Linked DNA regions of Homo sapiens: region 1 is linked to region 2. The links come from fine-mapping of genetic effects on gene expression. A gene starts in region 2. The other region holds a variant in brackets. All regions are shown on one strand. Distances are from middle to middle.

Region 1 (8,319 bases), 88 kb before region 2:
TCCCGTTGGTTTAACATTTCTCTTTAGAAAACTGTAGCCTGAAGAAACATTACCTTTGCCCTTCTGAACCACAGAATGACAAGATGCATTGTCACGGTCAAAGCCTTGCTTATAAATGTTTGACCTCATCACATTTGGGTGGAGTCTGTTGGCATTTTGCCTCAAGAAAATTCAGTGCAAGTAATGTTTGCCACGCCAACTCCGTCTGATTTATAGACATATTGTATGAGACTTTCTAGCCTGACTTATACACAAAGCCCACTTGAAAAATGAGGAATGGACAATTTCCATGTGCGTGACACGGGATTCCTGGATCTGTTCATCCTAATATATAATAATATCAGAAGGTTAGATGGGGTGACTTCTTAAGCATCCTTGGAAGTCATACATTCCACAACCCTTCCTCAGATAGTTTCTTTCAGTATAGAGTTGTTTGGAATTGGATGACAATAAGTTAAACTTTGGGGCAACTAATTACACCTATAGAAACATTCAAGGACCTTCAAATTGGCCCAAATGCTATATAGCACATGAATCCAGTAGAAGGGATGTAATAAAATGAAACTTACTGTTTGATAATTGTGTCATTTAGAGTTGTTCATTCAGTATTCCTGTAGCCATCTGAAGGGTCTACTGTAGCCATCTGAAGGGTCATCTTAGGCTGGCACTGTAACTAGTTCGTGTCTGTACTATACAGACGCTGAGCTAAATCGATTTTCCTGGGAATCTGGCTTTTTATTTCAAAGAAGCTTACTGTTTGGAACCACCCTATATAGCTAAAATTTAAGATCTAGAAAGAATCCTTTTTGATCATCTGACTCACAGGTATAGAAACTGAGGCCCAGCAGAATGAAATTGTTAAGCCAGGCTCCAGGACTTACAGGATTTTCTTGGTAGGTTTTTTTACCAACTTCCCTCTCCAGCAAAGAGCCTAAAATGACTGATAATACCATGTTGCTGTCTTTCTCCAGGGCTCAGCCTTCTTTAAATGGGCCTGCTTCTTCATCTGGTATTTAATCTGAGATGGAAAGTGAGATGCGAAACCCAATTTTCCCTTTCACTTGGTCACATGCCCAGAAGCAGCAGCGTTCAGTGGGCCGAGTACTGGCGTGGAACCTTCCTCTGTTCCCATGTCTGTGGCGTGGCACGAACCTGTGATGTGGGGCTCTCCCGCCCTTGCCCTGGAGGGGCCTTCAGGGACATGTGGCTCACCCATCTGTTATTGTCACATATCCCCCAGAGGAAGGAGGGACAGGCTGTGAGGTTAGCTTGTTTATTTTATGAGGAAACAGGCACAGAAAAATTAATTTACAGAGTCTTGGACAAAATCCCAAAGGAAGGAGGAGTGGGAAGAGCAGAGAGCGGATAAACAGCACAACGCCATCCCTGGACACGCCTAGTTCTTGCTTTTATTTAAATTTTGGTAGGTTCTGTGGCCACACCCACTTTAGGCTAGGTACTGGGAGACAACCTCTGGGGTTTTCTGGTAACCAGTTACATTCTCCAAGAGGTGGCCATTACCAGCTGAAAGGTTCGAGGTGAACTCACATCCAGCCTCTCCAAAAGGAGCTTGGGAACCTGTGTTCCCTCCGGGCAGTCTCCCAGACCGGGTTTGGTATCAGCCCCTCCCTGCCACTGCCCTGCATCTGGTCAGCTGGGGAAAAGGGGGCAGGGAGGAGAGAAGGCCAGTGGAGCAGAGCCATTCATTCTGTGGCTTATTTTGTCATCAGCAGGTCCCATTGCTCCCGCTGATTGGGGACTGCCTCTTCCTCGGGGGTGTAGTTGCTGAGATACTGCTTCCCCCTCAGGGTGGTGCTCGGCACACCCACCATAGCCTCTGGCAGGGAAATGCTGGAATCCAGACCTTCACCAGAAGCACCATTGTAGAAGAAAAAGAACAACCTCCTCAATAATAATGCAAGTGGGCCAATAATTTTTACAATATGCATATTTGTTTTCTTGATATAAAAATAATATATATTCATTGTAGAACACTTAGGAAACCACAAATCAAAAAGGAGAAAATAAAGTACACTCACCTCTGATTCTACCATCCTGGTACACATATGGTGCAGCGCAGCGGGTGAAAGCACAGGCTCTAGGATCCGAGTCCCTGGGTTTGAATCCGGGCTCCCCTGAGAAACAGCTGTGTGCCTTGGGTCGGATACTTAACCTCTCTGAGTCTTTTTTCCTCCCCTGTAAAATGGGGGTAATAAAAGTACCTACTTCATGGGATTGTTGCAAGGATTACAAGATTGTAGTGATATGGAGCTCACAGGGCAGTGCAGGAATGTAGTAAGAGCTAAGTAAATATTTGCTGCAGTTGTTGATTTATAGCTATCATTTTGCTCTCTGCCACAATGACATTTTCAGAAGACATTTTCAGAAGCAGACTTTTCTAGTTGCGAAGTAAACTCAGCCAGGAAACAATGCAGAGACTCCTTGCCCTGAAGTGGCTGTTATTATTAACTAAAGGGACTCTTTTCGAAGTGTATTTATAATACCTGAGCGATCCCAGATAGTTGATGTTTACTTTGAGATGATTTACACTTCCCCTAGTTAGTAACAACCCTTTTTTAGAAACGCATACCACTATTTAAGCAACTAAACTTGCCAGATTGCTAAAAATCAGTTACATTTCTTGTTCAAGTGAATTCACTTGATTAAACCAATTTTACTGTATTTTACTGTGATAAGAACACTTAACGAAATCTACCCTCTTTACGCATTTTTAAGTATCCATTACAAGCACAATGTGGCTATAGGCACAGTGTGGTTCCGCAAATCTCTAGAACTTATTCATCTTGCCTAACTGAAATTTTATGCTGGTTGATTAGCAAAGCCCCATTTCCTTCTCCCCACAGCCTCTGGCAGTCATGGTTCCCCTCTCTGATTTTGTGTGTTTGACTATTTTACATATCTTATACAAGTAGAATTATGTATGTTTGTCCTTCTGTGATGGGCTTATTTCACTTAGCATGTTTTTTTCCTCAAGGGCCATCCATGTTGTTGCATATTGCAGAATTTTTTTTAAGGCTGAATAGTATTCCATTGGATGTGTACACCACATTTTCTCTATCCGTTCATTCACTGATGGATGCTTTTCTTATTTCTACATCTTGGCTGTTGCCATAAAGCGTCCATCAATGAATGAATGGATAAAGAAATGATGCCAATAATGCTGCAGTGAACATGGGTGTGCAGATATCTCTTCAAAGTCCTGATTTCAGTTCTTTTGGACAAATACCCAAAGTGGGATTGCTGGATGATATGATAGTTCCATTTTTAGTTTTTGGAGGAATAAACCAAATGTATTGAACACCTACTGTGCTCAGTAGTAATTCCTGGGTGTATAGTGGTGAATAGAATAAGGAGTGGAGTCTCTGCCCTCAGAATTTCTGTCTTATAGTCAGCAAATGTATATACCATTTCAGAGTATAAGTGCTATGAAGGAAATTCATTAAAGCTATAAGACTCTATCCCCGGGAACCTGATTTGATAGTGTAAGGCATCTGCAGTGGGCCTTTGGGTTACAGACACAGTGAAGACTTGGCCCTGCTCTCAGGCTGCTACAGACCCCATCAGGAGGAAACAGGAAAGGCGGTTCTGTTCCACTGGGTGGGGGAAGGCCACCTGGAGGAAAGTTCCCCAGAGGGATGAGTGGCTGTAGTTGGAGAAGAGGAAAGGGCATTCCAGACAGAAAGAAAAGCCTGAGCAAGGGTGTGGAGACAGGGAAGTACAGGATGCTGCTGCGGAACAGCAGAGCCCAGTGTGGTTTGTGCAGTGGAGAGGGTGGGGCTTAGTAAGAGACTGAGCAAAGGTTGAGAATTGCAGCAGAGGCTAGTCATGGAGAATTTGTTCTGGAAACATTTATTCTAGACATAATCAGGGACACTCACAGTTTTGGAGATAATCTTTGAGTTCTAAGAAGGGATGGGGATCGTCTGAGGGCTAGATTAGTGAGGTTGGAACCTGGGGACAAGAAGGAACTCTTGGTGCCTGCCTCGTGCTGGATGCTCACTGCACGGGTGCTGGAGGGACACAAAGGTGAACATGCAGCCAGGAGAGCCTGGGGTTGCACAGACAGAGCCACACAGAAAGTGCTGGGGGCAGTGGTAGGAATGCCCACATGGAACTGGAGCTACTAACTATGGGAGGGGCGGGCAGGGCCTCGAAAAGAGGAGAGGTTTGAGCAGTTTTAGGCAGTGTTCCGTCACCACCACGGGCAAGTGGCCCTGCCCACCCCAGGAGTGGGAGGAGGGACATGGCAGGGGGAGCTCGGCTGCATTTCTGCCTGCCTTCCATTGCCTTGCATCCTTTCATTAACACACATCTTTCTTTGTTTTTTTTATTTAAGTAGAGACAGGGCCTCA[C/T]TCACCCAGGCTGGTCTCAAACTCCTGAGCTCAAGTAATCCTCTTGCCTTGGCCTCCCAAAGTGCTGGGATTACAGGTCTGAGCCACCGCACCTGGCCATAGACACACATCTTGTTTAAAACTCATAATTAGAAACTTGGCTCTGAAAAGAAATGTAAGCATTATTTTTCTCTTGTTCTATTAAAAATAGACTGCCAAATTTGCTTCCTCAGGGACCCCCGTGCTATATTTACCTGAGCCAGGGAGCAACTGTTCTAACCCCTTATGCCATTCCCTGGTGGCTCTTTCTCTGGCCAGGATGGAGGACCACAGTTTCCACAGGGGCTGTGACGGGAAGCCCTTGATTGGGTAGAAGGGGCTCCTTCCTTCCTGCCCCCTCCTTTTGTTCCCAGAACATGGAGCCAGGAATGCCAATCTGGGATCTTCCGCAGGACAAATTCTTTCTCCTAGTTCCCCAAGCTGTGTAGCTTTTGGGTCCTTTGGCAAAGAAAGAAACTATATTTTGAAACAACTGGACTGATTACATCTCTTTTTTGTTCCAGACTAATACAAGTTTCACTGGAAGGTCTTAAAGGATTGAAATTTCTATTAATTGCATGAATAAGTGTTGAAAATATACTGAGCACCGTGGGATGATTCTATGATTATGTTGAGTCCTGCACCCACAACACACACTAGTACATGCAAACACACATAGGTCCAGATCGTTCCATGCCCCAGGCCACGTTGCATTGTGCCTAGCTGAAACCAGTTCTCACAAACTTGGAGCATTCTCACTCCTGTTCTGTCACCATGAGAGGTTTTCATCACCTTGGCCAGAAAGCAGGATGCAGGTTAGCCGCTTCGAGTGGTTCTTAAGGCCGATTTCTTCTAAAGCTTAAGGCTTCTACTATAGCTTCGTTCACCTCCATATACAGCCAGCTTAGGTATGTAGCCCCTTGATGAACAGATTTCAACTTCCTGGTCCATTCAGCAGTTTGTGGAGATGTGTATCTTTAAACAAGTTTAGCAGCCTTGGGATTTTTCTTTCTTTTCTTCCTATTTACTTTTGCTTTTTAAGTCAATTTTGTTGAAGTATAACATATGATTAAATGCACCTTTTTTTTTTTTTTTGAGATACAGTCCCTCGCTGTCACCCAGGCTGGAGTACAGCGGCACAGTCTCGGCTCACTGCAGCCTCCGCCTCTTGGGTTGAAGCGATTCTCCTGCCTCAGCCTCCCAAGTAGCTGGGATTACAGGTATCTGCCAAAAATTAGCCTGGCTAATTTTTGTATTTTTAGTAGAGACAGGGTTTCGCGAAGTTGGCCAGGCTGGTCTCGAACTCCTGACCTCAGGCGATCCACCTGCCTTGACCTCCCAAAATGCTGGGATTACAGGCGTGAAAAATGCATCTATTCTATCTAATTGTACAGTTTGGTGAATTTGACATATTTGCATACTCGTGTGACTATGGCCATCATCAAGATATAGAAACTTTCCATCACCCTGAGACGCTCCCTGTTTGTCTGTTCCACTCACCAGCCGGGCTCCCGTCATAGGCAGCCACTGCCTGCTTTCTGTCACTTCTCCCACAAATATTTCTTGCATCCCCCCTGTATGCCAGGCACTGGATACAAAGATTTTTTAAATAACCAGTAGATAGCATTTTGGACAGCTTTCTAGGTGCCAAGGTGATTCTAAATGCTTCACGTATATTAACTCTGCAGCTCCTGAGGCCTGTGGATACTATTATCAGCCCTAGGGTAGCCCCAAGACACTGTTATTACAGATGAGGAAACGAGGCACAGAGAGGTGAAGTAATTTGCCCAAGGTCGCAGAATTAGTAAGTGATGGAGCCAGGAAGGTCCCAGGCAGTCTGGGTCCAAGGCCCACATTGTCCGCCACTATCTTGTGTGACCATGATGAAGACACAGTTCCTGTGGTTAGAGAATATATAATCTAATGAAAGAGACCAGCCCATCCCTCTGATTTTAATACCCTGTGTGAAGTGGTGCCATAGGCAGCACAGGCAAGGGAACTCAGGATGGGGAGCAGTTGAGGAAACCAGAGTAACCACAGCTCAAATTTGCTGAAAGTTAACAAAGTCTCAATGCCTTATGGATAAAAGCATTTTCTCAGGTAATCACTCAACAACCCGATCTTACAGGTGAAAAAAACTGGAGCTTAACGTTAAGTAATGTCTAACTTAATCAAAGTTGGCCCAGATATTTTGAAGAATGACTAGGGTTTGGGCTGGCTTTCTAGGCTCAGTCTAGACCATAGAGGAAGGGTTCACCAGGGCCATAGCCCAGCATGGGCAAAAGCAGGGAGCTTGGGTGAGTTTTAAAATCTGTCTTCAGATAAGCATGTTTCAGTTCTGTTTCCTCGACCTGTGATGCACCACCTAAACATCTATTGGTAACTTTTTGGAATAAAAGGAACTAATACTACTTTAAATGTGTTTGATTTGCTTTGTTGCTTGCTAACCAACAGGAACATAAACCTATCTGTACAATTTCCCCACCCTGGTATTCAGTCTAGACAGTGATCCTCAAACTGCACCATGCATTGCAATCACCTGGGAAGCTTCCAAGTGCAGATCCCCAGGCTCAGCCCCAGGGATTCTGATTCAGTGGCTCTGGGGAGGGGCCTAGGAGTCTAAACTTTAGCAAGCCCCTTATTTCATTCCAACACAGGAACAGGCTTTGAGGATCAGTGGTCTCTAGGTCCTTCTGAATCACCGTTTTCCTTTAGCAGGCAGACTAAATGACATGTTGGGAGTTAGATCCGCTGGGATTTTTGGGTAGCTAGGTATTTGCCGCCTGAGTCCTTCATGACACAAGAATCAAGCCGACCTATTCAGCCTTAGGAGGAGGGAGAGACTCTGACACATGCTACACCACAGATGGACCTTGAGGACGTTGTGCTGAGTGAAAGAAGCCGGGCACAAAAGGACACTTCTCTGAAGTACCTAGAGTAGTCAAATTCATAGAGACAAAAAGTAGAATGGTGGTCGCCAGGGGCTAGAGAGAGGAGGGGAGAATTAGTGCTTAATGGGTTCAGAGTTTCAGTTGGATGGTGGTGGTGGTTGTACGACAATGTGACTTATTTAATGCCACTGTGCAGTACACTTAAAATGCTTAAAGTAGCAAAATAATCCTAACTTTGTAGGGGGAGGTGGTAAGCAGACCAACCTCTCCCAGCTTTGATCATTCCTTGCTCTCTTTTGGACACGGTGATTTCTACTCCTTTGATTGTGTTGCCTGATGTGTGACAGACCGTCCTCTTACACCTGCTCAGGGACAGAACAAACACAGCTCTGCCTACCTGTACTTCTCGAACTATATTAAGCTCTCATTGTTGCTTTAACACAAGAAAATATGGATATGTACCTGTTCCTCCAGACATGAGTATTGGCGTCACTTATAGTAAACTTAAATCTGGCAGCTCTGTTCCTAATAACTTTTGATTTCACTATAGCATTGAAATGGCATCTTTTTTAAAGATGCTTAAATTAACTGTTAGGAACTCAAATTTAAGTTAAAGTTTAAACACAAGTGTTGCAATCAAAGGTAACCATTCAACCCAGGCGGCCCTGGGAGGAAGAGAGACTGCATCTGCACGGCTGGGTTGGCACAAGCACGGCAGGGTTGGCGCGAGCGCAGCTAGCAGCAGCAGCTGTGTTTCAGTTTGGGTGGCAGGTTTCTTTCGGAACCGACAGTAAGAGGTATTCCGAAATCTTAAATGGGGGTGAGGGGAGGATTGTTTACCAATTGTGGTTTTGTTTGTTTTGTTTTGTTTTGTTTTTGTGACAGGGTCTCACTCTCTCACCCAGGCTGGAGTATAGTGGTGGGTCCATGGCTCACTGCCTCAAACTCCTGGCCTCAAGTGATCTTCCTGCCTCAGCCTCCCAAGTAGCTGAGCCCACATGCATACGCCACCACACCCAGTTAATTTGTTTTTATTT
Region 2 (8,319 bases):
CAAAAGGGCGCAATTTCCCCTCTTCTCTCCCTTGGTTTTCCTGCCCTCTCTGCGCCCCAAACCATGTTACCATTTTCCATCCTTGCCTCCCTGCGTTTTCCAGCCAAACATTTATCAAGTGCTCCCCGGGTGCCTGGCACTGGGCCGGTCACTCGCCCCTCTGACCATAGGTGCTAAGACTCCTCCCAGTACTCCTCCCAGTACTTCGTGCCCCCTCGAGCGCAAGCCTGAGCCCCTTCAGAGAGCATGAGGATGAGGGGCGGCTGTTTCTCCCCCTCACTCCTCCAGGCCTCCTCCAGCCCCGCACCCTGGTTGTTTTCCAGGGCCTTGCCCAGTCCCCAGCCAGGCCTCTCACCCTGCTTCTTTTTTCAGCTCCACTCTCATCAGGGGCTCCTGAAAACCGTGAAGGCCCCAGTCACAAAAGGTCGGCCACCTCCACCCAGCTCTGGTCCTCTTACCCTGATCCCCGGCGCACCACCCCCGCCCCGCCACCGTCTCCACAGGCGCCAGGCCTGAAGCAGGGATGCTCAGAGGACACTCCCCAAAGAGCCTGGCCCCAGCACCTGCTCAGGGTGTGACCCACGGAGAAGCGGGAAGCAGGCCCCTCCCTTTGTGGCCTGGGTCCCAGCCCCATCCAGGCGCCTTGCTTCCTTCCCTGGGAGGCCAGTACCTGGGACGTGGGGAAGACAAGCCTCACCACTTGACCAGAGGGCAGGGCACTCAGTGGCGCCTTTAGTTGCTCCTCGGGGGCATCCTGCAGGGGACAAAGAATGCAGACCTAAGAATCTTTACGCTTCCACTCCTAGCAAAGACCTCACCAAACTCCCGCCGGCAGCCATAGAGTTATGGGAGGGACGGGAAGGGGAGGCCAGCATGGGCCCACACATGCTGCCAGGGTGCCCACTCTGCCAGGTGGAGCAGAGGTCAGACTGGGAGGAGGTGCAGAGGGAGGGAGGAAGTTCTGGGGGCCCCACCTCGAGGGAGCGAGGCACACTACCTGCAGGCGAATACTCAGCTCCTGCTCCCAGCAGGCTGGGCAGTGGAAGCGGAAGGTGCCAGTGCCCACAGAGGCCTCCTGCGGACCCTCACAGGACCCAGGAACCACAAGCTGAACTCTGTGCTCTGAGGCTGGAAACAGGAACCAGAGCAGAGAGGCTGGGGACGGTATCTCTGCCCACAGAACCCATCTTGCTGCGTGGCCTGGAGGGCACCTCCCTCTCCCCGCTGAAATGGTCTGGTGGAGATGGATCCCCCACCACAGTCCCCCGAGAAGGCCTAAGGGGAAAGCTCAGGCCCCAAGGAGAATTGTCCAATGCTTAAAGGGGGAAGACAAGAGCTGAGAGCCAGGGGCTGTCCCAGTGGGTTGGGGACTCACACTTCTGGTCTCCTGTCTCCTCCAGTTGAACGTGCAAGCAGGAGAGCTCCCGGGCCTGAGTCATGAAGACAGCCCCTCAGACACTAACCCCACCCCCCATTCAGGGACCCCACCCTCGCAGCACCCTGGCTGCTGCTGGTCTGCACTTCATTACCTGGGCCCTTGAGATTGTATTCCCTTAACAAACTGAAATCCCAGGGTCCCCAGGCTGAGGCAGCGGTGGGCCTGTACCTCAAGTCGCTGGCATGAGGGAGTCCCGGGGACCCCAGACCGCCTCCCAGAGCACTGGCACACTCACCACCAGAACGCCATTGCTGACGAGCCACTCGCCACGGTCAGCCCTGGAAAGAGCCCCCAGAGCCCCCTTAGCAGGAGTCCAGGTTCCCACCCCACAGAGACCTGGGCATCCCCCAGGCACTAGTGCTGTCCTTCCCACAAGGCACTCCCACCCAAACTGCCCCAGGCCCCTGACTCACAGACTCTGCAGGCGAAATTCAACTTCCAGGCGCCCCTCACCCTGGGAAGAGAGCCAGAAGTAAGTTAGAAAGGGTCAGAAGGAGTGCACATATGTCAGTGAGTATGAGAGACATGCGTGTGTGTGCATGTGTGCGCGTGGAGATTTCAACCCAGACACCAGCTAGGGCTGCCGTGGAAACACCGCCTTGCCTGAGGGCTCAGTGAGAAGCTCTCGCGCCGGAACTCCCCAGCCCGCAGAGTCCCCGCATCAAACAGTACTGACAACACAGGGTCATCTCCGGTCACCAGGTCCTGGTCAAAGACTTTCAGTTCCATGACATTCTGGAGGGGAAAAGAGTGACAGGGCTGCAGGAGGGAGGGGACAGAAAGGTGAGCAGGGCAGCGGCAGTGGCTGGCGAGGATGTGGGTAGAGTCAGCGCTGATGCCTGGCCCACCTTGAGCTGCCTGTGGATCCTGAAGTGAAAGCTCTGGTTCCAGACAGGGCTACTGCTGTTCTTGACCGTGCGTGTCTGGAGCCTGTGGCTGCAGGCCGTGGGCAGCCAGAGAGTCACGTAGCAGTCAGAGGGGGTCACTGCGGGAAGGAACAAGTGCCCAGCGGTGGACAAGAGCCCTTCCCAGCCGCCCAGACCCACTTCCTTCCATCACCTAGAGCCCCATGTGGGTTAAGACTGAGGGGGAGGGGAAGTGGGGGCCAGAGGCAGAGCCCCAGCTGCCACCTTCCACCCAGAAGCTCCTCTCAGCTCCCTCCTCTAGGCCCTGCCCACCGGCCCACCCGCCTCCACCAAATCCAGCCACAGCACCCTCCTCCTCAGCACCCTCCTCCTCCCTCAGCCCAGCACAGGGGCCAGGGCGGTGCGCACTCACCTAGGTCCTTAGAGGGTAGGCGATGGGCCTGCAGGACACGAACCGTGAGCAGGCAGGTCCTGGACACCTCTGCCTGCAGAGGTGGGAGAGGGGAGACCTGCTACGGGCCGATGAAGCCAAGGGTGACAGGGGCCACAAAGGAGGCTGGAGCAGTGCCTCAAGGCCTAATCCTGAACCCCAGGCCCATCCTCCATCTCATCAGAATCCTGAATCAACAAGAGGAGACATGATATCTCCATCATGACGCCTGCCAGCACTTACACAATGCTCTGCGCCGGCTCTGGGCCAAGGGCTTTGCATACATTAACTCATTTATCGCACAACCACCTTATGCACAGATACTATTTACGATGGCCCACTCCACAAGGAAACTGAGGCACAGAGAAGCAGTCACTTGCCTGAGGTCCACAATTGGGGTTGGAGCCCGGGCAGGCTGGCTCCAGATTTATGCCTCACACAGACCTGCTTCCACCTTCTCGGGCTAGTATCCTTTAGGCTCTCCACCCCACATCCCCAGCCCACACCCCAGCTAAGCAGCTTTCCGGCTGGTCTTGGGTGGCAGGGGACATAAGCTATCGAGGGAGGGGAAGTAGCACATCAGGGCCTTGGGCCCCAGGCTGAGCTGCTCTCGTACCCTCCCTCCACCCTGGTCAGAAGAGCATCCTGGAAATGGGCTCTCTCCTGGGCAGGGGAGGCGGCTCCTAGCTCAGACCCCTCACAGGCTGTCATGTCCTCCAGGTCCTGCCAGGTCAGGCTGAAGATGGTCCCCCGGTAGCTCCCTCCAAACCCATGCCCCTGGTTCTGGGAATGCAGCCTGGCAGGCGCACCGGGACCAGGGAAGCCTGTGCCAACTGCTTCCTTTCGGCCTTCCACCTGCCTCCACAAGGACCCTAACAGGTCAAGTCCAGGGAGCAACCAGGTCCAGGGCAGTGCTGGAGGGCCTCATCCACCAGGGTCAGCCCAGGGCCCTCACACTCCAGGCAACTGAGTCAGAGGAGCATGGAGGAGCCACTTGCTTCCAGGGCCTCAGGGCGGCAGCTGGGAGCCTCTGAGTCTCCAGGGCCCAAATCTGTGGTGCCAGGGAGCTCTGCCAGGAGCCCGTTCCCAGGACAGAAAACACTCAGGACGGATCCCTCATCCCCAAGCCTCCTCCTCCCCTGGCTTCTGCCCGCTACCCTGGTCTTGTGGTCAATAAACTCCCCTCCCTACCCCTGGAGAAGACCACAGCTCCCATAAGAAACATATTAACTAGGCCCCAGGTAGAGACCAGGGGTCCCAGTAGGGACCCAGGGCCCTGCCAGGCCTTACCACAGCCATGAGACTGAGTCCTCAGGAGCAGGAATGATGGGGCAGTGGCCACAGGATCAAGGACTGTCAGCTTTCTAACCCAGAGCCAGGGATGTGATGTCCCAATTGGTCCCAAGTCCCTCCTACCCGCCGCCTCTGCTCCACCTAAGCTCCACACCCACTCCTGAACCAGCCACCTGTCCAGGAAATGAGGCACCCTAAGCCTATACTAGAGCTCCTGATACCTCTGTGGCACTCGCCAGCCTTTACCAGCTGGGCCTGCCCCACCCAGCCCTGCAATCCCAGCCTGGAGAGCTTGCTGCCAGGGGCTGAGCAGAAGGAAAGCAGGGGTGAGTCCCAGAACAGCAGCCAAGGGAAGAGTGGAGTTCCCTGTCACAGGCCTTTCGCAACTCTGGCACCTGTTGGACAGGAATGCCCAGTCTTGATGGCAGGGATCCATCAATCTGAGATGAACACCCGGGCCCCCTCACGACAGGCAGGGGAGTGGCTGTCACATAAAACAGCCCTTCAAAGCTAGGTGCTGAGTGGCCAGGGATGAGGCCTGTGGGTTGGCACTCAGGGGCAGGGGGTTCTTCTGCCTCCAGGGCATGGTTTGTGGGGGGGTCAGCGTGTGGAGACCAACTCTTTCCTCAGAGGGACAGCCCCAGGAGAGGCGGGGGCTTCCGTCCCTTCCTGCCTGTGCCTGTTATGGGAGAAACAGGGGTTATCCCCAGGGCACCAGGTCCCACCTGCTGCCCCTGAACTGGGGGAGGACAGTAACCATAGGAGAGCTAGGAATAGCTCTCAAGGTCCTGGGCAAAGAGGTCCGGACCAGAGAGCTACAAGACTCAGGTCTGCTTGCTTGTCCCAGGGAGGGGCTGCGGTGACTCTCATGGACAGCGGGACTTGGGCAGCTGACGGCTCTTTGGGCCCAGGCTGGGATCCAGCCCTCACCCCCAGTGAAGGTCACCCTGAAGTTTTTACCTGAACCTTCAGGCCCTCCTTAGACCACAGAAGGCAACTTCAAGAGGGAGGATCAGAACATACGACTCATAAGCCAGGCGCAGCAGCTCACACCTGTAATCCCAGCACTTTTGGGAGGCCGAGGCAGGTGGATCACGAGGTCAGGAGATCAAGACCATACTGGCTAACACGGTGAAACCCCGTCTCTACTAAAAATACAAAAAAATTAGCCGGGCATGGTGGCACGCACCTGTAGTCCCAGCTACTTGGGAGGCTGAGGCAGAATAGTGTGAACCTGGGAGGCGGAGCTTGCAGTGAGCTGACATCACACCACTGCACTCCAGCCTGGGTGACAGAGCGAGACCCCATCTTAAAAAAAAAAAAAAAAGGACATACGACTCACAGCTACCTTTTATTCAACATGTCCTGTGTGCCAGCTCCATGCTGGTCCTCATAGACATCATCTCCAAGCCCACAACAGCCCCGCGAGGTACAGCCATTATTATCTCTTTACTGACAGGACACCAATGCCCGAGACGCAGTGACTCGCCCAACATCACAGCGCTGGGGAGAGGTGCCGCTGCACCTGATCCCCACTCTGCTCACCTGTGTGGCAACTTCCTGAGAACCCTCACCCAGACCTGCCTGGCACCTTGAGTCCTTATGACCACATTCCAAGATCCTCCAAAGCTGATCTCAAGCCATGCTGGACCCGGGGCCAGCAGCCAGCATGCACACTCCAGGCTCTCTCGAGAATTGACCTGGCCAGGGAGGGGCTGGCTCCGTCCCCCGAGGCGTGCTTGGTGGTGTTCACCAGTGCTCCATCAGTCAAGGCCTGAAGCCTTGGTGAGGGAGTCGAGCAGCTGGAAGTAACTATACTTGAGGTCGTATTCCATGTCATACCAGAAATTCACTGTGGGAAGAACGGGGATCTGAGCATGAAGATCCCTCTTCTGACCTAGAGCCTCCCAAGCCTCCCCCCAGAGGCCCTGCTGGACCTTGACAGGGCCTCTCCCCAGGCGGCCTGGGCAACTCTTCACCTGCGATGCAGCCCTGGGACTGCTGGACGTGGTGGAACCACAGAGCCGGCAGATAGAGCATCTCACCGGCCCGCACCGTGCAGCGAAGGGCCTGGGCCTGACTGTAACTAGGGTACCGTGCTAGGTCTGGCGCCAAGGGGTCCAGTGGGATCCAGGGCACCTGGGAACACATCAGATGCCAGGGAGCAGCCCCCCAGACCCCCCAGGACTTCAGGCTCTGTCCCTTCCAAAGGTCAACACCACAGGCCCTGCTTGGCTCAGCAGTGAAAGGCCTCAGACTTAGAGACTTTTCAGAGCAAGGTGCCACCTCCCCAGATCTTTTGTGCCTGTTCTTCAGAGCCAGGCTTCTGCCCTTCTCCCTCCCTAGAGCCCAAGAACAGGACAGACACCTTCTCCATGGCCTCTTCATCCACCACCTTAAAGGTGCCCTCTTCAGTTAGCTGGTAGGTTGCCGGCGTGTACAGCTCTGGAGCCCAAGGGAGAAGGGTGTGGGGGAATTGCAAACAGCCTGGAACTTGCCAGACCCTCCTCCACCCCAGCCAGCCCTGGGCAGGGGCAAGGGGATCAGGGGCCCTGGTGCACTGGGGATGCCACAGCCACACCTCAGGCCTGGGAACTGGCCTCCCAGGCTCTTGCTGCCTCCCTCCCCCTTGGGCCAGCTGTTCCCCAGCCCCTCCCTGCAGGCCACATCCCCTACCATAGGGGATGAAGGGCCGGTCGCTGGGCGGATGGAACAGGAAATGCTTCTCTCCTGAGACCACGCAGTAGAGGTTCTCATAGTGGTCCTTGTGCACTGCCAACAGAAAGAAGGCCCGGGGGCAGGGTATGGAGGGCAGGGGCACGGGAGGAGGCAAACCATCATGCTGAGAGCCCTGCACCCCAAGACGTCCTATGACAAAAGAGAAGCACGCACAGAGCCAGTGGGCTGGAGATGCCAGGGGCTCTGATGGGCATTCTGGAACTCTGCCTACCAGGGACCTGATGCTCACCAGGCCCTGGACTCCTCTTCAACAAGAGGGGAAGTTCTCCTACACTTACCCCCTGGCCCAGCGGGCCTTCAGGGAGGTTTCTTTGGGTCTAGAAGAAACAATGCACCCGCCCCCAATGCCATGGGTCCATTCCCCGACCTCAGCTGTCAGGGGAAACCCTCTGTGGTGCCCGAGTCCTAGAAGCCAAAAGAAATCTTAGAGAACAGCCCAACCTCCACCCAGGGCCATCCCTCCACTCCTGGCCTCGTCTTCCCTCCCTCTGCCCCAACCTGCTCCTTCCCCACCTTTGTATTCCCCTTACACCTACAAGAAGTCACTGCAGCCGCCTCCCCCAGCCAGAAGTTCACAGCATCGGGCATCTTTCCTGCAGGGCAGAAGGCAGAGAGCAAGTTAGGAAGGCCAGGCTGGGGAAAGCTGCCATCCAGTGATGCCAGAGCCAAAACCTGGGTGAGCACAGAAGAATCCCAAGAAAGGGGTCAGGGAGAAGAGGCAGAGGTTGGGAAATCTTGGGGAAGGGGTCCTCCCTCCCTGGGGCAGAAGGAAGGACAACAATCTTTGGCAATTCATCTATGATTAAGTCAAGGCCTGGGAATGTATTTAGTGAGCTGCACCAGATGCTGACAGGACCAAGCCCATAGGCCAGGTCATCACCTAAGGGCAAACAGGCTGACCCCCCTCCTTCCCATATCTTCCCTGTCCAGGGCCACGACCACCCCACCTCCACTCACCCAGGGCTTCGGAGGCCCAGGGCACATGGGATTCCAGATCAGGCAGCAGCTGGGGCAGCTCGCTGGGCAGGTTGGAGCACTGCTTCTGCACATAGAGGACTCCAGGGTGCTGGGCCCGGCCCTCCAGCACATCCAGCACGAAGCTCAGGGGCAGGCGGCGCTCAGCTGGCATCATGAAGCGATCCCCTCTCACGGCATCCGCGTAACCATCTGGGGTCACGGCCACACTCACCTCTGTGGAGCCCACTGTGGCTCTAGAGGAATGGACACTCAGCCCATGCCCAGATGCCAGTAATCACTGCTCACACCTGACCCCAGGGCAGCTCCCACCTGAAATAGGGGAGGGACCACTTCTGGAGGGCCGGCCAGTGCTGCAGAGCGTTGCGGATAATGCACGGCCTGTTGGGGCAGACCCAGTCCCGGTAGAAGTGGAGCGGAGTTGGGGGTTTGTCCAGGTAGGGCACAGCAAGAGGCACGCAGAGCTCTGAGAGAAAGAAGAAGACAGGGGATGGAAGGGCTGATGTCTGCAGCACCCAGTCCCTGCCCAAGAGATGCCCTCCCTGGAAAGGCCGCGCTGTGTCACTGGGAAATGCTCG

Evidence for each region.
Region 1: its variant is fine-mapped to the expression of PLA2G4B in whole blood (TOPMed, PIP 0.90).

What each region holds. Positions count from the first base shown.
Region 1 is chr15:41,922,227-41,930,545 of GRCh38, reverse strand. The region is part of intron 3 of EHD4 (EH domain containing 4); the gene reads left to right. It overlaps EHD4-AS1 (EHD4 antisense RNA 1), which reads right to left. Exons shown (of 4, transcript NR_120332.1): 2 at 4,379-4,465; 3 at 2,040-2,196; 4 at 1,260-1,864. Among named protein-coding and RNA genes, the nearest start is that of EHD4-AS1, 5.0 kb to the right of the region's middle. RefSeq lists enhancers at 937-1,066, 1,087-1,166, 1,129-1,632, 2,528-2,737, 4,138-4,655. The variant C/T (reference allele first, on the strand shown) is at 4,374.
Region 2 is chr15:41,834,628-41,842,946 of GRCh38, reverse strand. PLA2G4B (phospholipase A2 group IVB) reads right to left here and starts at 4,100. Exons shown (of 20, transcript NM_001114633.2): 1 at 4,025-4,100; 2 at 2,717-2,789; 3 at 2,287-2,423; 4 at 2,042-2,173; 5 at 1,852-1,892; 6 at 1,674-1,716; 7 at 1,376-1,430; 8 at 998-1,128; 9 at 671-754; 10 at 356-393. The coding sequence starts at 4,033. JMJD7-PLA2G4B (JMJD7-PLA2G4B readthrough) reads right to left here. Exons shown (of 25, transcript NM_005090.4): 2 at 8,054-8,207; 3 at 7,724-7,977; 4 at 7,303-7,359; 5 at 6,704-6,799; 6 at 6,396-6,472; 7 at 2,717-2,789; 8 at 2,287-2,423; 9 at 2,042-2,173; 10 at 1,852-1,892; 11 at 1,674-1,716; 12 at 1,376-1,430; 13 at 998-1,128; 14 at 671-754; 15 at 356-393. It overlaps JMJD7 (jumonji domain containing 7), which reads right to left. Exons shown (of 8, transcript NM_001114632.2): 2 at 8,054-8,207; 3 at 7,724-7,977; 4 at 7,303-7,359; 5 at 6,704-6,799; 6 at 6,396-6,472; 7 at 6,007-6,166; 8 at 5,366-5,879. The coding sequence ends at 5,791.